3 separate regions of the Homo sapiens genome follow, and all the other regions are linked to region 3. The links come from fine-mapping of genetic effects on gene expression. A gene starts in region 3. Each other region holds a variant in brackets. All regions are shown on one strand. Distances are from middle to middle.

What was found. PIP is the estimated chance that this variant, and not a neighbour inherited with it, causes the effect. A credible set is the group of variants that fine-mapping cannot tell apart.
Region 1: its variant is the best candidate, but not a certain one, in a credible set for the expression of LIN52 in nucleus accumbens (GTEx, PIP 0.89).
Region 2: its variant is the best candidate, but not a certain one, in a credible set for the expression of LIN52 in pancreas (GTEx, PIP 0.89).

Annotation. Positions count from the first base shown.
Region 1 is chr14:74,195,017-74,205,641 of GRCh38, forward strand. It overlaps LIN52 (lin-52 DREAM MuvB core complex component), which reads left to right. Exons shown (of 6, transcript NM_001024674.3): 6 at 3,906-6,477. The coding sequence ends at 3,961. Among named protein-coding and RNA genes, the nearest start is that of VSX2, 39 kb to the right of the region's middle. RefSeq lists a silencer at 7,157-7,357. The variant A/G (reference allele first, on the strand shown) is at 5,258.
Region 2 is chr14:74,160,775-74,171,399 of GRCh38, forward strand. The region is part of intron 5 of LIN52 (lin-52 DREAM MuvB core complex component); the gene reads left to right. Among named protein-coding and RNA genes, the nearest start is that of VSX2, 73 kb to the right of the region's middle. The variant A/C (reference allele first, on the strand shown) is at 4,280.
Region 3 is chr14:74,079,545-74,090,169 of GRCh38, forward strand. LIN52 (lin-52 DREAM MuvB core complex component) reads left to right here and starts at 5,412. Exons shown (of 6, transcript NM_001024674.3): 1 at 5,412-5,449. The coding sequence starts at 5,431. ALDH6A1 (aldehyde dehydrogenase 6 family member A1) reads right to left here and starts at 4,909. Exons shown (of 12, transcript NM_005589.4): 1 at 4,803-4,909. The coding sequence starts at 4,850. It also overlaps a transcript of BBOF1 not described here. RefSeq lists enhancers at 5,321-5,500, 6,441-6,530.

The sequences.
Region 1 (10,625 bases), 120 kb after region 3:
ATGCTTGTAATCCCAGCTACTTGAGAGACTGTGGCAGGAGAATCACTTGAACCGGGGAGGCAGAGGTTGCAGTGAGCTGAGATTGCAACATTGCACTCCAACCTGGGCAACAAGAGCGAGACTCTGTTTCAAAAAAAAAGAAAATAGTTGACAGATTTCACTGACTCTATATAACACTCTCTCTCTCCCAATCTTGTTGTGTCTAGAATTGTTTTCTATATAATATAATACATTATGGGGAACAAAGAAAAAGGAGAAAATGGAGGAACTGGGAGTGCCAAGCTGAAGAACATGTAGTCTTACTCTGGCCATTCATCCTAGAATTATACCAAGCTACAACCATTGTGAAGAAGAAGGGACAGAACCAGGCAGTGGGGAATAGAAATGGCTTTCTCTTCTCTGTAAGCAGGCAGTAGTCATCTCTAAAGATTTTTCCCCAAAGAGATTTGAAATTCCTGATGGGAGCTTAAAAAGCTAAGAGTAAAATACATTTATTTATAAGACCCTACTAGAAGAGGTGTGTGTGGGTGTGTGTGTGTATGTGTGTGTGTGTGTGTGTGCGCGTGTAGACGAGGAATACAGAATAGTAGCAGAAGGCTGTCTCCCTACTCCTAATGGGATTTTGTAGCAGTATGTGCAAGTTTGTTTCAGAAGTCAAAAATGAACAGATGTTAGTATAAATTACCTCTGTGTCTGATGTCTTGCAAATTAAAAGCGCAGTTGGCATCACTAAACAATTTCACTAGGTTTGGGGGGGTTCGGTTAGCGGGCGGTGATTACTGTAGCAGGTCGGTAAGAATCTTCGCCCTGCAGCAGAGCAAGGATAAAGAAATGAGGAATAAAATAAGGGCTATATGAATTAATCAGAAATGTTAACATCTCTGATGACAAGTGAACAGGAGGGCACGTGCTCTGGAGCAGCCCCTGACCCACAGCAATTTCTCTGTGCACAAAAAGGGGTTGGTGCTTAGCATCTGATTTATAGGGCACAGCCCTCTTTTAGGGAGCGGCTGTGTCATACATTCGTATATCTCCTGTATGGGACTGGCGAGTAGGAAAACTTTCTCTCCTCCCATGTAGGAGATGATGTCTTTTGAATTACTTCTACTTTTACAGTGGTTTCCTGCAGCTCTGTGTACTTGGATTAGGTTGAAGGGGGAGGAATGATTGAGTAGAAAAAGGGTTGTTAAAAAGGATTGGTTAAATTCAAGGAGAGCTTGCCACTGAGAGACTTCAGAATATCTATTTATTTTTCCTTTTAAACCCTTTTGACCCCTTAAATTGTGTGGATCTTTTAAAATTCTAAGTCTTAAAATATTGGTCATTTTCCCATTTGGGGAAAAACAGTAAGGAGTTGGTGAGTCTGAAGGTCAGCAGGCAGAAATCATTGGTTAGAGCAATGCAGTGCTCCAGGCCCAGGATTTTTGGAACAAGGCTCTATTCTCTCCAGAAGACTTTTGTATTGACCGTGTCTGGTTTCCAGAGCTCCTGCTTCTAGCCATGTTGCAGGATCATTAGTTACATGTTTAAACTTGAGAGTAGACAGATAACCCATCTAGTAGAAATAAGTGAGACCCAATCTGCCCAAAAGTATAAGTAAATTTCTTTTCCTTCAAGCTGAGGGAAAAGATTCCAAGGAACGGAGTTTTGTTTGCTAGCCTCCCTTTGTGCAGTTTGTTCATTCATTCATTCATTCATTCACTCACTCAGAAAATACTAAGTGCGAGAGAACTTACCCCCCTCTGGAAAGTGTTGTGTTAATGATTAGCACTATACCAAGCATGTTCATTGCTAATATCCAAGAGAAAAGTAGGGTATTAACATGCTCTCCGTTACAAATGAAGAGACTGAGGCTCAGAGATCTGCCCAGCCCAAGGTGTCACCCTGCTGCTAAGTGCTAGAGCTGAAACTTAAACTGAGTTCAAATCCTGTGTTCTCTGCAAGAAGCCCATGCTACCTCCTATGGGCAAGACAGTACTTGATTGGATTTTCTCTAGAGTAGTTAGTCCTTGACCCCAGTCTCTCCATGAACTTGGCATTATTTGCATTAAGGGAAATGATTTTCTTGCCAAATAAGCAAGGCACATTTAAAAAGACTCCCATCATGTAGAGAATGGAGCACTGAGGGCCACTAACTAGTCATATTTGTTAATGGAAAGGAAGGAAACTAACATTTTTTGCATTTCTACTTGGTTCTAGTTCTTTGGTGTATTATAATTTATCCAGTCAACACTTACTCAGCAGACACTAGGTCTGCTGAGTCTGTAGCAGGTCGGTAAGAATCTTCGCAGTGCAGCAGAGCAAGGATAAAGAAATGAGGAATAAAATAAGGGCTATATGAATTAATCAGAAATGTTAACATCTCTGATGACAAGTGAACAGGAGAGCACGTGCTCTGGAGTTTGGATCTGATTGTGGATCTTTTGCCAAGGGAGAGAAGACCAAAGCTCTTAACAGTCTCTGCCTTCAGTTTTTACATTTTAGTGGAGGAAGACAACCATATAAGCTAGTAATTGCATGCAAGTCTTATGGGAACTTTCTTGTACAGGATTTGCTGTAAATCCATGAAGGAAGGAATGGTCTGTTTGATTTGGTCTGGGTTGGGGTTGTGAGCACATGAGGCAAGACCCAACACTGGGCTTCTATGCCTAGTTAATGGAATTTCCTTTCCCTTTGTTGGGGCACAGGAACTAGTGAAAGATGGGGAATGTATAGACTGAAGTTACAAAAGCCTCCCTGTGGTCCCAGAGGTTGTGTAGTTTTTATTTCTTCATTGTACAAGAAAACAAGAAACTGTTAAACTTAAATTGGGGCAGAGGGGAGCTGGAGGCCATTCATCTAGCTCCATTTGCTCTGGACTTGGGAAAGGCAACAAGGAGGCCAGGGTGAAGGTCCTTCTCATTCCTGAGAGTGCCTCCCTAGCCACCTCACTTCTTTGGCCAGGACGGAGATGTGTTCTTGGGAGACCACACAGCCTACCCCGTGCCTACTGCATGGTTCCAGAAGGCCTGGCTTCCAGAGCCAGCCATCAGCGATCAGAAACTTTCTGCACTGTTAAATCCATTTAAGAAATCTGAAAACATGGCCTTGCAGGATGAGGATGAGGATGAGGAAGGGGCTGTTACACTACGTATGCTTTCTGAGATCTAAAATGGGAGACCTCTGGAGTAGCCCTTGTAATTGAGAAATGTTTTACTTTCATTTTGGAGCCTTATATGTAGGAAAGTAGCTGTATAAACCCACTTGTAACTATAGCATTCAAAGATTGATGGTGCTGAAAGCCGGAGAAAGACACATAAACCTTGGCTGGCTATATTAAATAGCTAAGGACTGACAATGCCAAGGGAGAGAAGACCAAAGCTCTATAAACCCTACTTTATGACACCATCCACAGATGAACTGCACTGAGGGAATATAAACCCTGTTATATTACAGTATCCAGGGACTAACACTGCTGAGAGATAGGGTAAATGATCTCTAATTTTGATTTGAGATTATAAATGTCCAGAGACCAGCAACCCAGAGAAGACTAATCTTGGTTGGATTTTAGGCTTCAAGAGCAAACCCCCTGAGATAGTGAACATGAGTATTAGGTTAGATTCTAGAGACAGAGATAGGTTTTGGGGGAATCCCCTGGTGATTTGTTTAAAGGTGGATGATAAAATCTTTCCCAGTCATTTGGCATGTATCTCAATTGCCAACTTCAGAATAGCTTTGTACAGTTTTAGTTGTCTATAGTGGTTTGTTTTTACCCCCTTTTAGGTTAGTTGGTGATGATTGAATCTGTTGTGATAGCAACTTGATATATAATTTAAATCAATCTGCATTTTTAAATTAAATCTTCCTATGATTCTTTTTTCCGATTTTAGGTTTTCATTGATCATTTGTTTGCTTTGTGATTCCAGCCAGAGAGATGACACGGGGGAAATTCCTCAATATTCTAGAGAAGCCCAAGAAGTAGCAGCTGCTTGCGGACAGGATGTCCTGGGGTCCGAAACCAAGCTCCCTTCCCGGTGCACCTCTAACAATGCACACCTCACTGCTTGCTTGGGAGAGGCCAGAGGGTGTACCTCCAGGACTGCCCTCTCCCCTGCTCCTGGCACTCTACACGTCTGAGGACATTCAGCAGCAAGAGAAGAATCTGCTCTACCCAAGGATCATTGCAGTTACTCAATCAACTTTCAGACTTGAACCTTCTTAGCCTCGGATATTGGTAACAGCTGAGGGCATATCATTCTTAAAGGTCGAAGTCCTGCTTTCTCATTTCTGGAAGTGATTCAGGAGCCCCAGGATCTTACGGTTGATTTGACTCAGTCATGGCAGTCAGTTGTGACATGTTGATTGGATGGGTTCTTTTGAATTGTTCTTGATCTCTTAGAAAGTGTTTACGATGTGAGGAGACCAGAGACCAAGTAGATTCTGGACCAGACCATGCAGCCTGACCTGTGAACTCTCCAGTATATACTAAGTTCCCAGAATCCCCAGCTGAAGAAACCAGAATCTTCTCGAAATGTATATCTGTTTTTTAAAACTTCTATACCTCTTATGATAGTCCCATTTGCTTTTCATTCCTTACTTCCCAGCCCCACCTTCTAGTTCTGACTTCGGGCAGAGGGATCCCTGAGTCCCTCCTGGAATTAGCTTGTATAGTGAAAGGCCCATCCAAGGTTGTCTAAAGACCAATGTGAAGGTGACAGAAAGGACTTTTGAGTTCTAATTAATCTGTTACAGCTTCAAGCAAGAAAGTCAGTATAGCCTGAAAGACAAGAGAAACGGGATGGTTTATAGGAGTTCCCATTTGGTTGAAAGCTAGAAGCCCTAATTGACCTTAAAGTAACATGCTATGGGATGGTGGGATTGTCCCCTCTGACAGCACATATGAAATAGTTCATCTATATAATAGAAACGCACACACACGAAAAAGAATCTTCTGACTTAAATACAACTTTCATGGAGTTCTTCACCACTTATCTGTCTCTGTTAAAATCTGAAAATCTAGCCCATGGCTAAAATCTATTATATGTGTTCTCCATATTTCTTGTATAAGCCAGTCCCCAGCATCTGATGTTTTGAGAAGTGCATGGAGTTTCCTAAACTTTGCACAAAAGAATATCCTGGGGCCGGGCATGGTGGCTCACGCCTGTAATCCCAGCACTTTGGGAGGCCGAGGCAGGTGGATCATAGGTCAAAAGATCGAGACCATCCTGGCCAATATGGTGAAACCCTGTCTCTACTAAAATACAAAAATTAGCTGGGC[A/G]TGATGGTGCATGCCTATAGTCCCAGCTACTTGGGGGCCTGAGGCACGAGAATCGCTTGAATTCGGGAGGTGGAGGTTGCAGTGAGCCGAAATTATGCCACTGCACTCCAGCCTGGGCAACAGAGTGAGACTCTGTCTCAGAAAAAAAAAAAAAAAAAAAAAAAAAAAAAGAATATCCCTGTGGCAATAGTCTGATGGTGTTTGGACACAAGAAAAGTTATGGTTTTGAGTCGTGAGTGTTTGCTAGGGCATGGCACTCTTCAGTTTAACAGCTGATCCATTAAACCTTTTCTGACATTTGTGCCTTGTTCTCATGCTAGAATTAATGCTGGATTTTTCTCTCATTTGACCATCAATGTAGTTTTACTTATTGAAAGGAAAAAAGACTTAACACAAGATAGGAAAGATGAGTATGAGAAGTAAAACATTCTGCTGGGGTGCTACATAGAAGGTTAGGTTGTAGGGGCTTTGATTTTAATTTAAACTTATTATCGATTGATATTTCTGTATCTCACTAAATGCGGTTGAAGAGTGTGTGTGTGTGTGTGCGCGCGCGCATGTGGCCAAAAAATAGTGCCATAATGTCAAATTCTTCCTTTGCTCTGTTTTTGAGAGTTGATGACATCAGGCACTTTTCAGTGTTTGGGGAAATTGATTGGGATACCTCCCCCAAACCAACTCAAGTCTGTAACTGGAAGCCAGGTGGTTGGTTTTCTGGTCCGCTTTGTCCTCTTTCTTTTACCGTCATCCTATTCACCAGCACTTAATGTAAGTAGATGTTTTAGAATTGCAATATTTATTGGTTTAGTATTTGTCATCCTTAGAAATGTTAATGATGTATTTTTATATTGATAATATAAATTTATGTACAGTATGTGTGTATATGTATTTCAGGATGTTATAGTATTGTACTTTGTATGTGATGGTTTTTGTGTCTTCATAATAAATATGTCCCTTTTACAGGAGGGTGAGTTTTTCCTCAGAGGGCCGAGTTGGATATTTAAAGCACAGACCTCCCCAGAAAGTACAACTGTAATGATAAATAATCTACTGTTTTCCCCCTTAATATACTTAATGGATAGTTGGGGGCTTTACAGTCATCTACTTGGTCTCCTGCCTTCCATTCTATCCTACCACTGCCCAACACCCGAAAGTAGTATTTAGAAACCCTTAATACCTTCCCGTGTCTACTAATAAAGTCTCAATCTCTTGACCCGGCATTTTAAGACTCTCTACATGTAATCCTAAGCAACCCTTCCGTTTCGTTTTCTTCCTCTCCTATATATGAAGTCTCTGTTGCAGTTACTCTGAACAGTTCCCAGTTTCTCACTTGAGTGCCTTTGCTCCTGCCTTTGAGTTCCTAGAAGGTCTTGGATCCCTTTTGCATCTGGCAAACCTATGCTTCCTATAATCTCCTGATGATCCAGCTGGAAATGGTCCTTCCCCTACATTCCTATAGCATTTACCCATATCATCCCTGTGACTCTTACCATAGTCTGCCTTATATTTAAGTGGTCTGAGTACTTTTTCTTTTTGAGACAGAGTCTCACTCTGTTGCCCAGGCTGGAGTGCAGTGGTGCAATTTTGGCTCACTGCAACCTCTGCCTCCCGGGTTCAAGCGATTCTCTGCCTCAGCCACCCTAGTAGCTGGGATTACAGGTGCATGCCACCACGCCCAGCTAATTTTTGTATTTTTAGTAGAGACGGGTTTTTGCCAAGTTGGCCAGGCTGGTCTCGAACTCCTGGCCTCAAGTGATCCTCCCGCCTCGGCCTCCCAAAGTGCTGGGATTACAGGTGTGAGCCACTACGCCTGACACTGAGTACATATCTTATTGCCCTACTAAATTCAAAGCTTCTCAAGGTATAGCTGTCTCCTGCACATCTAGTTCTTCAGTGTCTTTGAACTAGGGGTTCAAAACCTGTTTGCTTGCAGGCTTCTGGTTACACATGATAGATTGAAAACAAGTATTTATCTGCCATCTTCTAAATCCCTTAGTGTGGGTTCCTTTTCAACCATGTTCAAGAACTAGAAAAGAGGAAGTACTCATTATTGCTACTGCTATCACTCATTGATAGTTTACCTGCTCTGGACCAGAATATGCCCTTTTAAAGAAAGCATTTCATTTTAAGGAAAGCAAATTGCTTCTCATCATAGGCCCATCATTTATTTCCAAAAAAGACATCTGGATGAACAGTAGATTTCTGTGATCTAGAAAAGCATGGCTGATTGACTAAGTAGGGACAGTGTTAGGAGTGTTCTAAGTCTTTAGAGACTATTTTTACGGTAAGTAATTGTTTATTATTTGCCTACAGATATTTTTTCCCTTTTCCTTTGCCATTCCAAATACCATCCTGTAAAGCATCTGTCAGCTGTGAGCAGCAACATTCTGAAAAGCATAGTATTGGAGCTTGGAGACACATTTGCAAATTCTTATTGACATTTTTTTCTTACCAGCACTCTCATTATTTCTTGCTGTCTTCAGTCTCACAGATTCTAGGCCTCTGCTGATTTGCTTGGCCTGCCTTCCATAGGTTAGAACACTTAAAGTTCACAGGGTATTAATTGTGTTGATATTGAAATGCCATCATTCATTTTTATCTTTCCATTTTTGTCATATTTTTTAAATGGATGCTTGCTAACTGCTCCGTGGTTTTAGTTCTCTAGCTGCTCTTCTGGATGCTCCCAGATCAAGGCAGTGAAAATGGAACTGATGAAAGTCATTCCCTTGTCCCTGTGGCTTCAGAAGTGTGTTTGGACTTCCACAGGAGCTTTGAAATGAAGCCGAGAAATTTCATTTCCAGTGGGATTCCCTGACCCCTCCTGTTTCCTCCAGGATTAAGACATCACAAGAAGGTGAACAGGCAGAGCAGGAAGTGAGGAAATGGACAGTTGGGCCAAGGTGGATGGTCGCAGAAGCCAAATAACACAGTCTCTTACCAGTTCTCAGCTTCTGCACTAACTCCGTCTCCAAGAATTTGGTTATGTTCTCCATTTTCTGTTTTCTTCATCTCGTGAGAGCTACAAGGATACCTGGTCCCTATGTGGGCTTTGTTTCACCAGAGAGTCTTGCAACCCCCAACCCCAGAGAGTGGCAAAGGGTGGTGTCTCCACGGTTGTAAGTTCTGATGGACTGGAACTGATTTTTCCTATCTATGTAGGCTTTTTGGCATTTGGGGTGTGTGTCCTTGTCTATGCCTAAAGAGGCCACTGGCCTTCCCACCCTTTGCCTGGCGCTTTTTCCTCTCGAGCAGCTGGGGGCTTCAGACGATACCAGGTGTAACTGTGAGGCTCCTGGTTGGCGTGAGTGCTGGCAAAGCCTGTTAATTAGCACAGAAACACCCCAGTGCTCCATTAGCTGGGCCAGGCATTTGGAACCTTCCCCTCCTGTGGGCCCCTTCCTCCTAATGAGAGCTGGAAGAAGGGCCCTCACAAAACACTGCCTCAGAATAATATTCTGCTTTGTCCCCACCAGTAACCAGGGCTGACAGGATCACTCTGTCCATTTCTCTTCTAATTAGCACAATTCCAGCATGGCCTGAGCCAGCAAATAGAGAAAAGCGATCAAAAGCGATCGGACAACCGTACCGAATCACAAACACAAAGAGGGCCATTCCCTGTAATTAGGTGAGACAATTCCTCAGTCTTTTCTCGGCTGGAGTTTGCCGCTAAGACTCTTGCTGTTTGGGTCCCAGCAACACAAGTTACATGTCTCCCTGGGACACTAATAAGCCCCAAATTGTCTTCCGCTTCACACAACTCTACCCAGAGGACAGACATGGGGTGGTGGGGCAGGTGGCGGGGAGGGGGTGGGGCAGTGCAGTGAGGGGACGGGTCTCCCAACAAGCAGCTGCTGCAATGTTTCCCCAACTTCAAGAAGCAGACACTGGGGCTGTGGGCAGAGAGGTAAGAGTCAGTTGGCTTGAGAGAACTGCTCTTGGCACAGCCTGGCCCCTGTCACTTGAGCTGGAGTCTGAAGCACTGAGAATTTCTGACCCTCAGGGGAAGCCCCCTCTCAGCTATTTGCCCTACTCTGTTCATTCGCTGCCTCCTGTCTATGGCCCCCTCACTCCTCCCACCTCTGCAGACTGGTAGCATCACTCCAGGAACTACATTGAGCCCTTCACAAACTGTAAGCCCTACACAACTATAGTTACCATTGCAAAGAAAGCTAACACACAGCACGTGAGTGAATTCTGCCCTAGAAGACTGCATGACCTGGAAGGGGCACCCACTGCCCCCCTCACTCTGGCCTTCATTTCTAGCACCCATCACCTTTATGTCCCTGATTGTGTCCCCAACCCCTGCCTACTATCTCCTCTCTCCTGAAAGATCCCTGTTTTTTTAAAACAGAAAAGTGGCCCATCTGCCAGGGCAAGAAGCTGTAACTGGCCGCGCTCCATGTGGCTCAGAGGTTGGTCACTTAATGAACAAAAACAGCTCCCCCAGGATTGCAGCCCATTACGGGGATTACTTGGGGCGATACAGCCGTAAACTTGGTCATAGCCAGGGACAAAGGAATGCAGGGGAGAGTGGCAGTTGGAATCTCAATTAAACCCAAGTTCGGAGCAGAATTGGGCTCACATATTTTCATCTCTCTCTTGCCCTCTGCTTTCTGTCTCGATCTCTATACCTGATGTTTCTGAAAGTGACCTCCAATACCAAAGGAGATTCAGTTATGTAGAATCTGAGGAGCCAAAAAACTCAAGTAATCAGAGTTGCATTGTTTTTCTACCTTCAGTTTTCTGAGGCACAGAGAGGATAATGATAAGATTTGACTTTTAAAAATAACTTTTGGGACATGCCAAAGAATTGATCCAAATTTGTTCAATTTCCTACAGTTTCTTTGGTTATAAACAGAACTACCTGGCACATAATAGGTGCTAAAATAAGCATTTGTTGAAAGAATGAACTGTGCCTTGACATTCGGTGTTCATAGCCTCATTGCTGGTCTAAGATATAGTAAGTGCTTGGATTTTGAGAGAGAGGCAGGGGTGATCTTGTGTAAGTTACTTCTCTCTAAGCCTTGGTTTCCTTAGGACTTTTTCCACTTTAAAGAGTCATATCAGCATCATGGATAAGGGCACAGGCTCTGAAGTCAGGCTGCCTGGGTGCAAATAGCACCTAACTACTAGGGTAGCTGTAGAGATTAAACGAGTATTGCAAAGTGTTGAGAATGGTGCATGGCATATCTTACCCATTACGTATATAATTGCTTGATGGATAGATCTATAAAACAGATTCCATGTAGTATTTAATTTTTTATTATACTCACATTTGTTAAAAATTGACAATCCCTAGGCCGGACATGGTGGCTCACACCTGTAATCCCAGCACTTTGGGAGGCTGAGGCGGGTGGATCACTTGAAG
Region 2 (10,625 bases), 81 kb after region 3:
ATTTAAGGCAGTTTATAATCACTCCTTGTGGTCTTGAGGCCAGTTTTCAATTCATGAGACTCATATATCCTAGCTAGTTTTAATTAATTTTGCAAGGAAGATGCCAGGAGAAGCAATATTAAATGCTTTCTTATAATCAGGTTATTTCATCTTTTGCGTTCTCGTCAGCCACTAATCTTGTAATTTTATCTTAACAAAATACAGAACTTGCTTTGACATAGTTTGTTCTTTACTCATCATGTTTTTCAGTACATAGAACTTATGGTTTGGGTAACCTTATATTCATGATTGTCTTAACATTAGGATTTGGGGATAGACCTTAATTAGTATCACATTGTGTTTCATATATTTGGTCTTTTAGGGTAATCATATTAGCCAAGAACAGTCAGGAGTAATTTGAACAGGGAAAAATTTATTTATTTATTTATTTATGACAGAGTCTCACTCTGTTGCCCATGCTGGAGTGCAGTGCATGATCTCGGCTCACTGCAACCTCCGCCTCCTGGGTTCAAGCGATTCTCCTGCCTCAACCTCCCAAGTAGCTGGGACTACAGGCATGCACCACCATGCCCAGCTAATTTTTGTATTTTTAGTAGAGATGAGATTTTGCCACATTGGCCAGGCTGGTCTCAAACTCCTGACCTCAGGTGATCCACCCTCCTTGGCCTCTCAAAAGTGCTGGGATTACCGGCGTCAGCCACCGTGCCCGGTCTGAACAGGGAAAATTTAAAATAAAAAATGTTAATTAGGTGAAAGGTGGTTAACTTCTGAAAGGAAAAGAAGAGTCAACGGTGTACAGAGGTAGCAGAAAGCTGCTAACCCCTAGGACTGAAGGAGAGTCAACAGAGGAACTTAGTGGAGGTCCCCACAAGGCTGAGGTTCAGCCCTCTGAAGGGAAAACACATGGCCACGGGAACACTCTGCCGGTGCATTGCCGGAGCAGCCCACCTGATGGCAGTGAAGAATCTTTGGGGGAGGGAGCCCCACCACTGAACTGTAAGGACTGCCATTGCCAAGGTGAACATAGCTGAGACCCTGCACGCCAACCTGCTTGTCGCTGCACAGAAGAGCCACACGGTGCAAGAAGGAAGAAAAGGCCTTTTTCCTGCCTCAGCTTTGCAGCCTCCCTCCAGTGCCCTTTATTGGCAAAGCAAAGCACCAGGCTAAGTGACAGAGAAGAAATGTAGCCTGCTGTTGGGTCCAACTCCAGTATCACAAAGCAGGGCAAAGGGTGAGTTAGGAAGCGAGAGACAGTAAATGGATAACTGGCACAGTGAGTAAAATTTTTGTGTAACTTTAAATATTACAAGTTAACTTTATTTTGCATCATGGGGTTGATAACTATCATTCAATTAACAGGTTTTAACAAAATTTTCAAAAATAAAAAATCTGACAGTAATTGGAAGATAACAAAGCATAAGTGTGAATAAAAAATTGCCGCCTGTAATCCCAGCACTTTGGGAGGCTGAGGTGGACAGATCATTTGAGATCAGGAGTTTGAGACTAGCGTGGCCAATATGGTGAAATCTCGTCTCTACTAAAAATACAAAAATTAGCTGGGCTTGGTGGTGCACACCTGTAATCCCAGCTGCTTGGGAGGCTGGGGCAGGAGAATCGCTTGAAACCAGGAGATGTAGGTTGCAGTGAGAGGAAATCGCCACTGTACTCCAGCCTGAGCAACAAAGCAAGACTCCATCTCACAAAAAAAAAAAAAAAAAAAAGATTGCTCTCCCACCCTCTTAGCCACATTGAATTTTCTTACTTTCCTTATTTATTTATTTTTTTATTGAAAAAAAAATATTAGAGATGGGGTATCATTATGTTGCCCAGGCTGGTCTCAAACTCATGGGCTCAAGGGATCCACCCACCTCATCCACCAAAAGTGCTGAGATTACAGGTGTGAGCCACTGCGCCCAGCCGAATTTTCTTAATTTCATGTATGACTAATTTTCTCTTCTAATCATTTCATTTTTCTTGAATTGTTATATTCTCTCCCAACTTTTCTCTTTTTAACGACATTGAGCTCTCCTCTTCCTGTCTTCCATTAGCACCTTTCCTAACAACCTTATTTGTTCTTCAATTGTTATTTATGCTTGTCTTCTCAGCTAAATTGTAAGGCCCTTGTAGTGAACTCAGGGACTGTGCTTTATATTACTTCTGTATATTACAGAATAGGACTATACGAATGCATGTTGAATAGATGGAATCATTTTATATTTACAATTAAGTAAGAAAATGGAAACATAGCCATCAAAGCAGTCAAGGAACAGGTAGGCACTTACCCTTTCTATTCTCCCTTGCTACCTTCTTTTTTGTTCTTGTTTTGAGACGGGGTCTGGCTCTGTCTGCAGGCTTGGAGTACAGTGGTACAATCTCAGCTCACTGCAGCCTCAACCTCCTGGGCTCAAGCCATCCTTTCACCTCAGCCTCCAGGTAGCTGGGACTACAGGTGCACACCACCATGCCCAGCTAATTTTTGTATTTTTGTAGAGACGGGGTTTCACCATATTGCCCGGGCTGGTCTCAAACTTCTTACCTCAAGCAATCCATCCACCTCTCTGCCTCCCAAAGTGTTTGGGTTACAAGCGTGAGCCACTGCACCCAGCCTCCGTTGCTACTTTTTCAGAAGCTATTAATAGTCTGCCAGTTGTCTCTCGCTCTCTAGAAAGAATATAGCTAACATTAGAAATGTAAAAACAAAACCAAGGTAGGAGTGGGGGGGATGACAAAACAGTTATAATCATGGAAAAAGCTAAAGACATCTGAAGTGAAAAATAAATGTGGAGGGCACTTTAAGGTTAATGATGGTTTTAATGTACACTCTGGCTTTTCTTTCGAAACCCTACTAAAACAATTTTTTTAAAAAATATAAGAGCCCTCAAGGAGAGAACAAGAGAGATGACAACAGCAGCAAGATTTTGGAAGGTGGAAAGTATGTGAATTTAGCAAGCCTATGAAAAATAATACAAAGTGAGGAAAGCCAAGAACCAAGGCAGTTCACGAAACTTCAAAGGCTGAAGATTGGTGGTACAGGTGAAGGAGGAGATGGCTTAAATAAGGAGGATTAAAGTGTATTTAGGAGTCACATACCTATATCACCTGCTTTATTCTCTCCCACAAAAGACTGGAGCTTTATTCTCTAAAGTTAAAACACAATGGTTACTCAACCGGTGGATACTAGACCAGTGGAAGATGGGGTCTGTACTGAAATTTTTTTTTTTTTTTGAGACAGAGACTCGTGCTGTCGACCAGGCTGGAGTGCAGTGGCGCAATCTCGGCTCACTGCAAGCTCCGCCTCCCGGGTTCACGCCATTCTCCTGCCTCAGCCTCCGGAGTAGCTGGGACTACAGGTGCCCGCCACCATGCCCGGCTAATTTTTTGTATTTTTAGTAGAGATGGGGTTTCACCGTATTAGCTAGGATGGTCTCCATCTTCTGACCTCGTGATCCGCCTGCCTCGGCCTCCCAAAGTGCTGGGATTACAGGCGTGAGCCACTGCGCCCAGCCGTTTTTGTTTTTTTTTGCTTTTGAGACAGGGTCTCACTCTGTCACCTAGGCTGGAGTGGAGTGACACGATCTCGGCTCACTGCAACCTCTGTCTCCTGGGTTCAAGGGATTCTCCCATCTCAGCCTCCTGAGTAGCTGGGAGTACAGGCAGGCACCACCATGCCCAGCTAATTTTTATATTTTTTGGTAGAGACAGGGTTTCACCATGTTGTCCAGGCTGGTCTCGAACTCCTGACTTCAAGTGATCCGCCTGCTTCGGGCTCCCAAAGTGCTGGGATTACAGGTGTGAGCCACCATGCCCGGCCTGCACTGAAAATGTAGCAAATTATGCACGCATTATATGCTGAGGCCATCTCTCCCTCCACACCCAGGCCTTCACTCTCCGGTCAGGAAATTAGAAGAGACTAATCTGGGGAATCTGATCAGCCCAAGAAGAATAAAGGCACTGACACTGGAAGTTCTACAACTAAACAGCCTGATCACACTGTAGCAAAGCTTACAGTCAACAAGCCTAGCTCCTACTTGAGTTTTCAAGCAGCTTTTTAGTCTCCTATTCTTACATAGGAAAAGAAATTACCAATGTTTGAGAAAAGCCCCTAAAATGAAAAATAAGGACTGAAGGCAATGAATGGAAGGCAACTTGGAGAAAACAGAATATGCCTTCAAGAAGGTAAAATTGATAAATCGCATGATTTACCACGTTTCAATATCTTAAGTTTAGACAGCAGACAGACATAGTCGATTCTGTGGTTGATTTAGAGATAAGTACAGAG[A/C]AAACCAAGCAAACTGAAAAACTCAGGGAAAACAAAAAAAAATGTGCAAGTAAGGAAAAGTAATCATAGTTAATAATATGCCTTAGCTATAAATAGTATTTGTATAATCATAATAATGTAGAAACTGAATGTTAATTTAAGTTACCATGTATAACCCTGAGAAGATAGGAGATAGGATGCATGTCATGTGTATTATGAGGAATTAAGGTGGGAAGGGGGAAAAAAAGAGTCAAGTTATCACTTCCTGTATTGGGGGAAGTCAATAGAAAATGCCTCAAATTGAAAAATCAGGAGGTAGCAATACAGGCACTTTTTTTTTCATTCCTTTGGTTCATTCCTAGGAATACAGGCATATTATTTAGTCATTTAAGACATAAAGGTAATATAAAAGAATCAGCTAAACAGAGTGAAAGTGATTGCCATGGGAAGGAGTTAATGGAGAATTACAGGTTTTCTTTTCTTTTTTTTTTTTTTTGAGACAGAGTCTCAGTCACCCAGACTGAAGTACACAGTGGCACAATCTTGGCTCCCTGCAACCTCCATCTCCAGGGTTCAAGCGATTCTCCTGCCTCAGCTTCCCAAGTAGCTGGGATTACAGGCACATGCCACCACGCCTGACTAATTTTTGTATTTTTGATAGAGATGGGGTTTCACCATGTTGGCCAGGGTGCTATCGAACTCCTGGCCTCAAGTGATCCGCCCACCTCCGCCTCCCAAAGTGTTGGGATTACAGGTGTGAGCCACTGTGCTGGGCCTATTTTCTTATTAAACATTGTTTAGCCTTGTTTCCAAAAATGTTACAATATCCAGTCTCTGTCCCTCCGATTACCTATTTCACCAATTTTTTTTTTTTTTGAGACAGAGTTTCGTTCTTCTTGCCCAGGCTAGGGTGCAATGGCATGATCTCAGCTCACCGCAACTTCCACCTCCCGGCTTCAAGCAATTCTCCTGCCTCAGCTTCCTGAGTAGCTGGGATTACAGGCATGCGCCACCATTCCCGGCTAATTTTGTATTTTTACTGGAGACGGGGTTTCTCCATGTTGATCAGGCTGGTCTCGAACTCCTGACCTCAGGTGATCTGCCCACCTCAGCCTCCCAAAGTGCTGGGATTACAGGCGTGAGCCACTGCGCCCAGCTATTTCATCTATTTTTAACAATTAAGTTATTTTTTATTTTTTTTAAGACAGAGTTTTGCTCTCGTTGCCCAGGTTGGAGTGCAATGGCGCGATCTCAGCTCACCGCAACCTCCGCCTCCTGACTTCAAGCGATTCTCCTGTCTCAGCCTCTAGAGTAGCTGGGATTATAGACATGCGCCACCACGCTGGCTAATTTTGCATTTTTAGTAGAGATGGGGTTTCTCCGTGTTGGTCAGGCTGGTCGCGAACTCCTGACCTCAGGTGATCCGCCCACTTGCCTCCCAAAGTGCTGGGATTACAGGCATGAGCCACCGCGCCCGGCCAAGATCTTTAAATTAAAACGTTATTGCTCACATATTTTCAGTTTTGTGTCATGAAATCTGTGTGCCCAAAAAATCCAAAATATATAATTCATTTTCTGGGTGGGAAGCAACTATATTTCTGTCTCATGATGGGAAATAGAACCCAAAATTCAAGGCTTTAGCAATATGTTGATCACACAGTTTGATTAAGGAATTTCACTTTTTCCCATCTTTTTCCCTTGGTGTAAGGGGTATTTTCCTGAATATCTAGCTGGATTGCAATTCACTTGGGAAAAAATAAAATTCTATGCCAATTTTCATTATTAAGGTCCTCTAAATATTGACCTCTGGTAATTGGTAGGTTTTGGTGGATGGAATTTTACTTTTTTGACATGACATTGAATTGTACATTTAGCACTGGGTCTGGGTGTTCTCTCTGGGGAGAGTGGAATTGATGGTTCTTTTTTCTGTCAGTCCCAGGTGGCCTGTCAGGAGAGCAGGTGTTGCTGGGATGGTGCATGCATTCAAGAGTCATAGTGCAAATCTCATCAAGGCATGTATCCCCAAACCACTCAGGCTGGTATCTCTCCTGGGGAAGAGGCCAACACTGGCCTCTGCTGCTTTTTTTTTTTTTTTTTTTTAGAAAAAGAAAGAAAAACTAATTATCAACGTGCAGCAAATGTCATTCAACTCAAATCCATGAAGGATAAAAGCATAGGAGACAAATGTTCCTGGAGACAGGGTTGAGCTGTCACTTGTCTTTTTAATGGATTGTTGTTTGGCTATAGAATCACATGTTATTTTATCTAATGGTGTATTTCATCTGAAGAAATACTGAATAGAATTGTACCATTTTCATAACCCCTCTGGGTTTGAACAGAATCCTAGCATCAAGGAAGATATAAGAGGTTATTTTCATTGCTCTTAAAACATTCAGGGGACGGGTGTTTATTGACTTAGTCAATAGTTGGCTAATGTTGGCCAGGCTGGTCTCAAACTCCTGACCTCAAGTGATCCACCCGCCTCAGCCTCCCAAAGTGTTGGGATTACAGGTGTGAGCCACCATGCCTGGCCTATGTCCAGAAATTCTTAACATGTAACCCAATTCACTCAGGTTTTAGATTAAGTATGTTTCCTTTTACTCTAAATGCTATTTGACAAGTGAAGTATTGTCCCTAATACTGCACCTATTTTTTCTTTTTTCAGTTTTTATATTTTTTATAGAGATGGGGGAGGGTCTCACTATGTTGCCTAGGCTGGAATTGAACTCTTGAACTCAAGCAGTCCTCCTGCCTCAGCCTCCTGAGTAACTAGGACCACAGGTGTAAGCCAGTGAGCCTGGCTTCCTTTCTTTTACTTACAGTTATTATATTCCATTTATCTACCTTGACTACACCATGGGCAGTTGGGCAGTGATCTTTGTTACATTTCAGAGGGCAGAATTAGGAACAATGAGAAGTTAGAGAGAAGTTGGATTTTGTTTTGGGGTTTGTTTATTTGTTTTGCCACACTCTTGGAAGAACTTTCCAAATGTCCAAGAATTAAATGGACCCTCAAGAAGTACTGAGTTTCCTATCAGTGGTAATGCTCAGGCAGAGCTCTGCAATTAACTATAGAATGTTATGAGATACTGCAGGTTATTAGGTGGGAGTTTAGATCAGATATTCTTTTCAACTACATGAATTAAGGATTCTATTATTTTTGCTTTCAACAGAAGATATACAAAATAAACAGCCAGTGTCCATCTTGAATTGCACCATTGTTTATAATATTTCTGTTTTTTTAATCTTACAGTCCTCTCTGTTATAACAGTTATTACTTATTAATGGAGATAGCAATGCTATTAGTACTTGTATTGAATTAGTAAGTGTTCTGATAGAAAAATTAACCAGCTTTGCCGGGCGCGGTGGCTCACGCCTGTAGTCCCAGCACTTTGGGAGGCTGAGGCAGGTGGATCACGAGGTCAGGAGATCGAGACCATCCTGGCTAACATGGTGAAACCCCATCTCTACTAAAAATACAAAAAATTAGCCAGGCGTGGTGGTGGGTGCCTGTAGTCCCAGCTACTCGGGAGGCTGAGGCAGGAGAATGGTGTGAACCCAGGAGGCGGAGCTTGCAGTGAGCAGAGATTGTGCCACTGCACTCCAGCCTGGGTGACAGAGTGAGACTCCGTCTCAGAAAAAAAAAAGAAAAATTAACCAGCTTTTCAAACAGCATTTAGAGTAAAAGGAAACATACTTAATCTAATACCTGAGTGAACTGGGTTACATGTTAAGAATTTCTGGACATAGGCCAGGTGTGGTGGCTCACACCTGTAATCCCAAAACTTTGGGAGGCTGAGGCAGTCGGATCACTTGAGGTCAGGAGTTTGAGACACCTGGCCATCATGGCAAAACCCCATCTCTACTAAAAATACAAAAATTAGCGGGGCATGGTGGCGCGTGCCCAGCTACTTGGGAGGCTGAGGCAGGAGAATCGCCTGAACCTGGGAGGTGGAGTTTCCAGTGTGCCGAGATCACGCCAGTGTACTCCAGCCTGGGCAACAGAGTGTGACTCTTGTCTCAAAATAAAAAAGAATTTCCGGAGAGAAAGGAATGTTAAAATTTGGAAACTCTTTTTTGGGCCTTGAAAATGAAGCACATTTTCATATCTGGGCTGTCTCACTGACTTGAGCCTTACCTTAGTGACTGTTTCTAAAATGTCTTCTTTTCACACATCCCCAGTCCACATTTCTTTTTCTACTGTTTCAAGAGAAGTTCCCTTTTACCAGTAATATCTAGACTATCTTGAGTAAACCTTCTTCTTTAATATCAAAATCCTTTTGTCTCTTTTCTCCTCCCTTTTTCCCAATTCCAAGAAGTATCCTTTCTCTTAAGAGTTACCTTCCTTTTCTGTGTATTCTGGTTGCTGTTTTCTGGTGACTTGTAAGGAACCTTCAGCCTTATTTCCATGTTTTTTCCCCTCTCTCCAGCATCATAAGTCTATTCCTCTTCCAACATCATTTTCTCTCCAACATTTCCAGTGGAAGGGATCTCATTTCCATTGCCAGACAATTAGAATCATCCCAGTAGAATTCTCCCATCTCTCTACTTCTCTTAATTTATAGCCACAGTTGTTATTTATGATGTTAGTTGCAATACAGAAAGAAAGCAAATTTCTCTCACACATAAATAGTTCAATGTATTTGAAGAGATCTATCATAGTACCCCCTTTTAAAACTTGTTCATGTTGCCAATCATGTGTTTCTGTTTTTTCAAAATTAGAGCTTATATTATGCCTCAGACACTATTAGATTCTAGGATCTCAAAGATAAAACATCTGTGAGATACTTATCCAGTGAGGGACAGTCATGTAATCAGATAACTGTATTTCATTGTAAAAGAAGTTTGTGTGAAGTTCATGGCTGACATGATGGAAGGAATAAGCAGCTCTGCCTGAGTGGGGGTTTCAGGAAAAGCTTCACAGAAGAGACACTGGAAGCTGGGTCTTGAAGAGCACATAAAAATCTGCCAGATGGACATCAGCAGTACTGGAATACGAAAGAGGGGAGGAGTGATGGGCCTGTTTAAGTAATTAGAATAACGTGGACAGGAACAGAAGTGTGAAGTCACATGGTGCATTTGAAGACCTGCTAGTTGTTCCTGTGTAGCAGGAGCATATGGAAGAAAAGCAAGAGACAAAGTTGTTCATTAGATGTGAGCTCCATGAGAGCCAGGACCTCACCTGGCCCATTCGTTATTGTATCCACATTGCCTAGTGCATAACAGATGCTTAGTAAATATCCAGTGAATAAATAAATAAAGAGGTAGGTAAGGGCCAGATCTAGAAGTGATTTTTGTCTAAATTCCACAAAGACTGACTTTTTTTGCTCTTTTAGGACTTGTATATCTTCTATAGGTTCTTAAGCATAATTATTAATGGGCATTTGTGTGTTTTTGGGGTAAATATGAACTATTAAATTATTTGATTACCTGCCAGAACTCGTAGTGCCACATTTTGCCAAATTACCAACCTCAAAAAAAAAAATGGAAATAATTTTTATTGAGGTGAACTCTATAATACCCTGTTTAACTTTATAGAAGTTGCCTTGGAGTTTAAATGTTCCATTTTCTCCCTGATTAAAAAAGGAAGAGATAGAAAAGTTAGAGGTTTTTATTTTTTTAGTTTGATGTTTCATATTAGACTACAGTGTGATATATTATAGTTTCTATAAGCAGTAGAAACTATAAAGATAGATATAAACTGTCCAGAATTAAGTACTGAGAGAAAAATATTAAAAGCAAAATTAATAGAACCTTGATATTGTGGGACAATATCAAGCAGTTTAACATACCTGTAACTAGAGTTCCAGAAGGAAAGGAGTTAGGTACAGGCCAGAAAAAAAAAAAAATTTTTAAGACATAAATGATCCCAGGCATGGTGGTTCACACCTGTAATCCCACACTTAGAGATACTGTGGCTGGTATATTGCTTGAGCCCAGGAGTTTGAGACAAGCCTGGGCAACATAGTGAGACTCCGTCTGTACCAAAAAAAAAAAAAAAAATTAGCTTGGTGTACTCTATATCTTTAACATGTTTCTGAAAAATTCTGCCATTAAATGAAAGGTACTGGCCAGGCATAGTGGCTCATGCCTATAATCCTAACACTTTGAGAGGCTGAGGTGGGTGGATCACTTGAGCCCAGGAGACCAGCCTGGACAACATAGCAAGATTCCATCTGTAAAAAAAAATTTGCCAGGTGTGGTAGCATGCACCTATAGACCCAGCTACTTGGGAGACTGAGGCAGGAGGATTGCTTTGAAGGTCAAGGCTGCAGTGAGCTACAATTGTAACACTACACTCCAGCCTAGGTGACAGAGTGAGAGCCTGTCTAAAAAAAAAAAAAAACCCAAACAAAAGTCTGTTGTA
Region 3 (10,625 bases):
GCCTCAGCCTCTTGAGTAACTGGGACTACAGGCGCCCGCCACCATGCCTGGCTAGTTTTTTGTATTTTTAGTAGAGATGGGGTTTCACCATGTTAGCCAGGATGGTCTCGATCTCCTGACCTCATGATCCGCCCGCCTCAGCCTCCCAAAGTGCTGGGATTACAGGCGTGAGCCACTGCGCCTGGCCTAATTTTTTGTATTTTTAGTGGAGATGCGGTTTTGTCATGTTGGCCAGGCTGGTCTTGAACTCCTGGCCTCAAATGATCTGCCCACCTTGGCCTCCCAAAGTTCTGGGATGACAGGTGTGAGCCACGACATGTGACCTCTACGGATAATTTTAAAAATTAGTTGGGCATGGTCATGTGCACCTGTGGTCCCAGGTACTTGGGAGGCTAAGGCAGGAGGATCACCTAAGCCTTGGAGATTGAGGCTACAGTGAGCTGCGATTGTGCCACTGCACTCCAGCCTGGGTGACAGAGCGAGACCCTATCTTAAAAAAACAAAAACCAAAAAACAAAAGCAAAAGCTAAACTCTGCATCTTCCTTTTGCCAGTTTGCTATGCCTCCTATAGCCCACCTCTCGGTAAATAGGGCTACTCCTTAACAAGTTGCCAAAGGAGAAACCCAGATACTATTCCAATTCCTCCCTCTCTCTCTGCAGGGAAGCAAAAAACTCCTGGCAGTCTGTCCTAGAATTGTTTGAAACACATCACTCACCTCTAGCTGTCCTGCCATTATCCCAGTCTATACCATCATTGTCTCTCACTTGACCTTCCATAATAGCTTCCTAACACATCTCTCAGCCTCTAATGTTAAACTCTTTCTTTTTTTTTTTTTTTTTGAGACAGAGTCTCACTCTGTCACCCAGGCTAGAGTGCAGTGGCACAACCACAGCTCACTGTAGCCTCAATCTCCAGGGCTTAGGTGATCCTCCTGCCTTAGCCTCCCAAGTACCTGGGACCACAGGTGCACACGACCTCGCTCTCAGGCTCAAGTGATCCTCTTGCCTCAGTCTCCCAAGTACCTAGGAGTACAGGCACATGCCACCATGCCCAGCTAATTAAAAAAAATTTTTTTTTGTAGAGATGGGGCCTCCCTATCTTGCCAGGGCTGGTTTTGAACTCTTAGCCTCAAGCGATCCTCCTGCCTGGGCCACCCAAAGTGTTGGGATTACAGGCATGAGCCATCACACCCAGCCTACTCTTAAACTTTCTGAATCTAGTTTCCATCCCATAATCAGAGGGTCTTTCTGAAACATAAATCTGGTCAGATTATTCCCTTGTTTAAAATTCTTCTTTGGCTTTCCACTGCCCTTGGAATAAAGACTAATCCCCTTGATGTTGCTTAGAAAACGCTACATAGTATCTTTGCTTTTCTAGTTACATAACTGGCTACTTTCCTCCCTGTTCTCTATGCTCCTGCAATTTAACGTGTGTCTTGCTTTCTTTGCTCTTGCACATGCTGCTCTCTCTTGCCTGGCACTGTTTCATCTAATTTCCTTGGCTCATTCCTACTCCTTTAGGTCCCCACTCAGCCATCATCACTTTCTCTAGGAAGTCTCAACCTCAGGTCTATGGTAAGCAGCTGATTGTGAAGCTCATAAAGCACCCAAATTCCTTTATTTCTCATCTCACGCTATGAAATAATAGCTTGTCTAATGATTAACTTTCTCTCCTTTGAGGTCACTAGATTGTTGTGTCCCCAGCCCCTAGCACAATTCCTGGAAGAGAGTAAGTACTTAGTAAGCAATATTTTGCACAATGAAAGAATGAGTACTCGCCAAGCAATCATTTGATATTGTTTCAGTACTCTCAAGTTGGCAGACAATGCACTGATCAGCCAACTTGAGCATTCTAGGCCACTTAAATTTTATTTTTTCACTTGTATACAGCCTCCCTGCTGTTAAGAGGATGTAAAAAGCACTACATCTGGTATAATAGAACATATTCATATAGTTTTTTGACAGGTTCGATCTTCTATCTTTTCTTCATTTCCTAAGAAACACCCATTAGCATTGTTGCTGAAGAAACTATCCTGTGGCCAGTCACCCCAAACTGCTGCTCTCTAGATGTTTACTTCCTACTTGCTATATCCTTTATAAGGAACTCCTTCCTCTCCTGGTTCATGGCCTGCTAGTCCTGCAATACTTGGCTCTTTCCCTAGGTCCCCACAGTATCCCAGATACTCCTATTGTTTATCACTTATTGCAGTACAATAAAGGAGCTTTCAGTGAGCATTTTACTGTAAGCCTATGTCAGTGCCTAACATAGAAAGAGATGGCAAGACTTAAGTTCTGAATTTTCAGCCCCATCAGTTACTAGTTCGGTAACCATATCACCGACAGTGCAAGTCGCTACATCTCTTCAAGAGTAATTTTCTTGCCCAGGTGCAGCGGTTCGTGCCTGTAGTCCCAACACTTTGGGAGGCTGAGGTGGGAGGATAGCTTGAGTTTAAGAGTTCAAGACCAGCCTGGGCAACATGGTGAAACCCTGTCTCTACAAAAAATACAAAAATTAGCTGGCATGGGGGCACGATCTGTTGTTGCAGCTACTCGGAGGGCTGAGATGGAAGAATCACTTCAGCGTGGGAGGTCGAGGCTGCTGTGAGTTGTGATTGCACCACTGCACTCCAGCCTGGGTGACAGAGCGAGACCCTGTCTCGAACATTCCTTTATCTCTGCATGGGAGTGATAATATCACAAGGAGCAGAGAGAGGTTTTAGGTTAAGTTTGACTACTCTTCGTGGCAGAGAAAAATAAGCTGAATACTTAAAATAATTGAAAACATTAACTTTCTCCTCTATAAATCCTTTTGATAGTTCTCTAATATTCATGGCTGCCAAAATCGAGGTTTTTTTTTTTTTTTTTTTTTTTTTTGATGGAGTCTTGCTCTGTCGCCCAGGCTGGAGTGCAATGGCACGATCTCAGCTCACTGCAACCTCCGTCTTCCGGGTTCAAGCGATTCTCCTGCCTCAACTTCCTGAGTAGCTGGGATTACAGTCGCCCGCCACCACACCCGGCTAATTTTTGTATTTTTAGTAGAGAAGGGGTTTTACCATGTTGGTCAGGCTGGTCTCGAACTCCTGACCTCAGGTGATCCACCCACCTTGGCCTCCCAAAGTGCAGGGATTACAGGCAGGAGCTACAGCGCCTGGCCCGTAGGCTACTTTTTATCGAACTTTTAATCAAAGATTCACGTTACAACTCCTAGTTGGCTGAGGATTACTCTATCTGTTCTTTTCCAGGTCACTTCAGAAGTTTCTCCAAATGAATCAGAAAATACATAGTGTCTGTTTCTGAAATAAAAGTACATGGAAAGAGAGATTCTTCTCCTTGATGGAAAAGGACAAAATACTTTCTTAAGGTTCTCAATGACTCATTGTGATGGGAGGGGAAGAGGAGGCAAAGGAAAAAAGCCAATTTCAGTAAAAGATTTCAAGAAGTTGGTAAGAAAAATATAGGGTGGAAACTTTGTTTTCCTGCTACTAAAAAAAGATACTAGAACAGAACAAGGATCGCAGCAAGAAATATGAGTGAGGCCAGACCATCTGCCAAACCCTTCAAACTCATCCTTTCTACCTTCCCCATTAAATAGCATATTTAAAAATGAATCTTTGCTGACTCTGCCAAGAATCTTAAAACTGCCCAAGTTTCTTTACTAGAACTCACGGAAACCTGGTGAATACTAATATTACCTAAAAGCTCAGCAATATAGAGGAAATTCTCAGACTGGATGTAATGAATAAGAACGGCACTGTTGTTTCTTGCAGACTGTTTCTTGCCTGCGGTAAATCTTGCCACATACTCTAAATCCTTGGTAGGCCATGAACAGGGGAAAGACTATAAACAGAGTTGGAGATTACAGGCCTCAGGCATGCAACTCCTGTAGCTTTACCATTTCTCCTTAGGTTGGCTTCAGAGAGGACTCAATCCCCCAAGTGCAGAGATGAGGGTGTGTAGCACTAGAAGAGCTGATTTTGGGGTGGGAACTTAGACTTCTTGTCTTACCTGGCTCCCACTTTCTATCACCCGTTTTAAAGATGTTTGGTACCTTGAACATACATGGAACATACTGGTAGCTTTAACTGTGTGCCCTTATCTACCCTATCTATGTAGATGTGCCCTATCTATGTAAACTGTAACTTAGCTGAGAAAAAGTTTAACTCAAAGTTTTGGCAAGAAAGGGGACAGCCAGTCCATGGAAAATACAAAGAGCCACACTTAGGGAAAATAGCTTAGCAAATGGCTGCCTTTGGTGAAAATCTAGAGTCCACCTCTAGAAGGAAATTCAAAGTTCATACACTGACCCTCGCCCCTCGCGTCCCCCCTCCCCCTTACCTCAGATCACCACGGATAGTGAAGTAGGGTGGGGGAAGGGAGCAATGGCAAAGTGGACGCTCACGGCAGGGGACAGAGTAACCAAAAAGAGTAGTTTCTGGGGGAGAGAGAGAAGGCTGGTGCAGAGGTAAAAAGGAAAGACGGTGGGCGGATGGAGAGATGAGGGCAAGAGAGTGACAGCAGGGAGCGGGCAGAGCTGGAGAAGGAGAGTGGGCGAGAGCCAGAAAAGAGGAGGCTTAGGAGTAAAAGGGTAGAGGGCCAAGGGTAACAGCCCAGGGTTGGATCCGGGACCAGGGAGGTTATGAAGTGAGGGCTGGGCATGGGACAGGGCCGCACAGGTCGGGTAGGAGGTCTGGCCAAAAAGGGGTTGGGCCAAGAAGGTGGTCCCGCCCGAGGATGGCTCAGGGAGCGGACGGAAAGGATCCAATTCCTAGCTTCATGGTGCCTTGGCACCACCCTCACTCGCCTGCAGGATCCGGGCTCGCACTGCCGCCGCCGCCAATAGCGCCGCCATGGCTCTCGGCCGCCCTAGCTCCGCACCCCGCGCCTCTACTGCCCAGAAGCACTACAGCTGCCAGGCCTCGCCCTCCATCCTGCCAGGCTTCCTCATTGGTGGGGAGGACTATTTTCTCCAGCCAATCACTGGTCCGAACACCTGATTCCTCTCCTCACACCCCCGTCCTGGGGATAAGTGATTGGTTAGGAGCGAAAATGCTCTCGCCCTCTGCCACCTCAGCCAATGACGTAGGCGGAGGTAGAGAAGACGCCCCTGACTTGGACACTCCCTACCGAGCACACGGGGAAGACGCCCCCCTAACCTGGAACTCCGATTGGCCAAGGGCGGAACCGAGGCCCCACCCCCCCACTGAAAAAAGTAAATAAGACCCTTCAAGAATTTTGCAGTCGCTCCACCTCAACATCCGCGTAAGGGGCGTGGCTATACTTAGGGGCGGGGCTAGGCAAAGATTGCCCTATGAGGCGAGGGAATGAGACTGGGCTGCGAGTTGGGGATAGGGTTTCTCTTTGGGGGCGTGGCTTATGGAACCTCGTTTTCCCGCCGACGGTTGGCCACGTCACGTGACATGGGTTGGAAGATGGCGTCTCCCACAGACGGTAAGAGCCGGCTTAGAGATCTTTGCCTGCAGCCTCCTTCTTTGCTCTACTGGGAACATCCACTCTGTCTCTGCCCCTCGAACATACATTTCTTTCTTGGGCTCTTCTCCTTTCCCTTTTATTTTTTTTCTTGAGATCCATCGCCGTCTTCAGCTCACCGGTTCTTCACAGCAGCTCCGGAGGTGCCCAGTTTCCCCGCTCTGTACCAGGCGTGTGGAGGAGGGCACTAGGGAGGGACTCATTCTGGGTAAAAGGACAGGGGGGTCGCCCTGTGCCTTCCTTATCTCTATTTGGGCGAGGCTGAGGGTCGAGGAGGAGATGTTTCTGGAGGACGTGGCTTACTGTAGTTTTTTCCTTGGGGTACCCATTGAAAGGATCAGTTCTCTTCTGATTGAGCGCACGGATGGAATGATTCTCACAAACCCTCGCAGGGCTGCTGGCTGACCTCATCTCGATACTGAACCGCAAGAGAAACATGATCTCTCTCCTGTCTCCTCAGTTTGGGACCATTGCCGTGGCAGCAAGAGAAGCGGGGGACGTTCTCGGCCCCTCGCCCTGAGAGTCGCGAGGAGAATCAGTATTGAGCTTTTAAGTGTCGTCTTGCACAGGTCGCAACCTGTCTTCCATCTGCTTTACGTGTTGTTTCTTAAGGCTGAGTGAATTAACGATTTCTGTTTATATATTGTGTAAAATGCAAGTCATTTCAAGTAACAATTAAGTTGTTTTGGTATACTCCCATGCTTTTCCTCTTGGTTCTGCTTTAGAGAGTTAGGGTCTTGCAGTCATTTTTAAACTCATTTTTAGTTCTACCATCCTCATCCCAACTATATATCGATTTTATTGATATATAGGTTTCCTTCCCTTAGACAAAAACATTTTATATTTGGAAGGAATCTTGGAAGTTCATTGCAGGAATGAAGAAATTGAAGCCAAGGTGAGCTATATTAAGTACCTGCTACATGAAAGGCATAATGCTAGGTGCTTTGGGAGACCAAAAGATGACTCAAACATATAAACATTTTTTTTTTTCAGTTTCAGTTCTCTTTTTAGATGTCACCTCCCAAAGAGTCTTTCTTAGAACACAGTATCTGGAGTTGCCCTTTCCCACCATTATTCATTATCTCAGTATCTTCCTTGTCAGCATAGTTACTCTGTTAACTTTGCCCCTTTTGCGCTAGATTGTAAATTCCAAGTTTGTCTTGTTCATAGTTGGATCCAGGTTTAGCACAGTGCCTGACGAACAGTAGGTCTTTAATTAACATTTATTGAAAGATTGATTAGATATATGCAGAAATAATATATTACTTGATCTTAAGTTTTAAGTTTAACCGAGTCTTAAATTTTGTGAGCGCAGGTACATACTGTATTAGAAATTATGGCTGGGCGTGGTGGTTCACACTTCTAATCCCAGCACTTTGGGAGGCTGAGGCAGGCAGATCGCCTGAGCTCAGGAATTGAAGACCAGCCTAGACAACATGGTGAAACCCCATCTCTACAAAAAAATACAAAAATTATCTGGGTGTGATGCCACAAACCTGTAGTCCCAGCTACTTGGGGGGGCTGAGGCAAGAGAATCTCTTGAGCCCAGGGGGTGGAGGCGGCAGTGAACCATGTTCATGCCACTGCACTCCAGTCTGTGTGACAAAGCGAGACCCCGTCTCAGAAAAAAAAGAAGGAAAAAAAAAGAAATTATGGATGTTTGGAGTCAAAAGAGATTCTCCTGCCTGGGTGCGCTCTTGCAAAAATGTCCTTCTCTTGCCAGAAAGAAGGGCATTTAAAAAGTCAGGCAAGGGAATAGGGAGTTATTGTTAATGGGTACCAAATTTCAGTTTGGGAAGGTGAAAGAATTCTGGAAATGAATGTGATGATTGCACAATTAATGTACTTAATACCACTGAAATGTATACTTAAAAGTTATTAAAATGGTAAAATTTATGTATATTTCACCACAGTTGAAAAAAAAAGCCAAGTAATACAAGTAGAAGTAATTGTTATTAAACTTTTTAGTTTATTTTTAAATTGTTTTTACAAACTTTGGGGATTTTAGAGATGTGTTCCTTGAGTTTGATTTTTTTCCCCTGTCATCTCTCAATTTAGTTTCCTTTCTTTGGCCAGGAAGAGTATTAAAAACATTAAATTTGGCTTGGCGTGGTGGCTCACGCCTGTAATCCCAGCACTTTGGGAGGGCGAGATGGGTGGATCACGAGGTCAGGAGATCGAGACCATCCTGGCTAACACAGTGAAACCCTGTCTCTACTAAAAAATACAAAAAATTAGCCAGGCGTGGTGGTGGGTGCCTGTAGTCCCAGCTACTCAGGAGGCTGAGGCAGGAGAATGGCGTGAACCCGGGAGGCAGAGCTTGCAGTGAGCCGAGATCACGCCACTGCACTCCAGCCTGGGACAGAGCGAGACTCCATTGCAAAAAAAAAAAAAAAAAAAAAAATTAAATTTTTTTCCTTTTCTAGCCATCTCTATGGTCACTTTATTTGCACTCTTGATTTTTAAGTTTTCATTCTCATCTCTTACAAAGTTTCACTCCTCTCCACCTAATGTTTTCTTTTTAATCTGAAAAAATCAAGTCAAGCACTTTGAACTTAAATTCAGCTTCTAAATAAGTATCTCATTCCAAAATATTCCACGGCCTAGCTCTTTCACTTCTATTTTTAGTGTTCCACCTGTCACTGTCTTTAAAATTTAATTCAGATAATATTTATTTTAATATGTTTGTCATTTACTCTTTTGTCTTTTTCGTGATAAATTTGCTGGAGCGTCTTTGAAAAGGAGAAAACTGAAATTCAAATACAGCCATCTAATTACTTAATTTATGAGAGTAAGACTCACAGCAGAGTCTGAGTTCTATCCCAGACTGTGGTATCATAAGGTCACCCATGTAGGTTATTAGATTGTACCCCCAATAATTTTTTTTTAACTTTCTTTTAGAGACAGGGTCTCTCTCACTCTATTGCCCATGCTGAAATGCAGTGATATGATTATAGCTCACTGCACCCTCAAAGGCTCAAGCGATTCTCCCATCTCAGCCTCCTAAGTAGCTGGTACTATAGGCTCACACCACCATGCCCAGCTAATTTATTATTATTATTATTTATTTTGTTTTGAGACGGAGTCTCACTCTGTCACCCAGGCTGGAGTGCTGTGGCATGATCTCGGGTCACTGCAACCTCCGCCTCCTGGGTTCAAGTAATTCTCATGCATCAGCCTCTCCAGTAGCTGGGATAACAGGCACACGCCACCACACCTGGCTAATTTTTGTATTTTGAGTAGAGACGGGGTTTCACCATGTTGCCCAGGCTAGTCTTGAACTCCTGACCTCAGGTGATGCACTCACCTCGGCCTCCCAAAGTGCTAGGATTACAGGCGTGAGCCACCATGCCCCCACCTTATTATTTTTTGTAGAGATGGAGTCTCACTATGTTGCCCAGGATGGTCTCAAACTCCTGGGCTCAAGCAATCTTCCTGCCTCGGCTTCCCAAAGCACTGGGATTCCAGACATGAGCCACTGTACCTGGCCCAATAACTTTACTTTTGTTATGGTTGAACATTCCTCAGAAATCGGTAACAAAGAGAAGCTAATTTTTGGATGCTTTAATTAAGGCAATGTATTAGTTGAGTTCTTTACAATTAAAATGCCATTGGAAATTCCTTTGGAATATTTGGCAAAACAAATTCAGTTTAGAGAAAAGTACATTTTGTACGTATGTATATTTTCTGGGGAGTGAGTTCATTTTATTTCCCAGATTTCCAGAGATGTGGTTACCCAGAAAATGTTAAGAACTGCTGTTTATAGCATTAAATGAACTAGTTATGCAACTGGTTAGCATACTGAGCATACAATAAAAACTCAACAAATGTTAATATTGAGTACTACTGTGTGCAAGGGAAGAGTGGAAGAGAAATGATGTCAAAGAATTAGGTAGAGGCTGAGTAAGATTTTATAGAGTGTGGTAGATACACATTCACAGATTTAGCTGGGAGGAACTTTAAGCTGGAGAGAGACACGAACTGATTGACGTTTAAAAAAATCAATTCTGGCCTCTTTATGGAGAATAGATTCCGGGGGTGTGAAGGGGAAAGGGTAAGAATGGGAGCAGAGAGATCTGTTAAGAGGCTGTTGAAGTAGTCCAAGAAAGAAGTGATGGTTCCTTGGGTTATTTGATTTCAGGGTGTATTCTGAAGGTAGAAACGACTAGATTTACTCATGGATTGGTTATGGAAGGGTGAAGGAAAAGAATGCATGAAGGATGACATCTGGGTTTTTGATCTGAGAATTGGAATTTATGGTAGTGTTATTTCTTGAGATGGGAGAAGATTGGGGGAATATGGTTTTGAAGATAATTAGGTTTAAAGTTTAAGTGGGGATTTTTTTTTTTTTTTTGAGACAGGATGTGGCTCTATCACCCAGGCTGGAGTGCAGTGGTGTGACCTTAGCTAACTGCAGCTGCCACCTCTGGGCTCAAGCCATCCTTCCACCTCAGCCTCCCAAGTAGCTGGGACTACAGGCTGACACCACCACACCTGGCTAATTTTTTTGCTTTTTGTAGAGATGGGTTTTCACTATGTTGGCCAGGCTGGTCTCAAACTCGTGAGCTCAAGCAATCCACCCACCTCGGCCTCCCAAAACTGCTGGGATTACAGGCGTGCACCACTGCATCTGGCCTTAAGCAGTTTTTTTATATGTAAATAGAGAGGGATTCAAATAACCACTTGGACATAAACCTTTGTAGTTCTTTAGAAAGGTTGGGAATGGAAATATAAATATGGAGTCATTGGCATACAGATGAAGATAAAAGTCCTCATGTTGAAATAGGGGAGTTCCCTAACCGCAGGACATACGACAGGGGTGTGGCTTGTCTGTGTGCACTCAATCCTCTTATGGGAGAGGGAGCACGCAGATGGGCAGGTGTAGGAGTCAGGGCGAGCACTTTTGGGCTCCAGCCCCACGGTAGCATCTAGGGGTGGGTGCCTGTGACTCCCAAAGCCCAAGTGGGCATGTATAACAGTGCACTCTTTTTTTTTTTTTTTTTTGAGATGGAGTCTTGCTTTGTTGCCCAGGCTGGAGTGCAGTGGTGTGATCTTGGCTCACTGCAACCTCCACCTCCCAGGTTCAAACGATTCTCCTGCCTCATCCTCCCCAGTAACTAGGATTACAGGTGTGTTC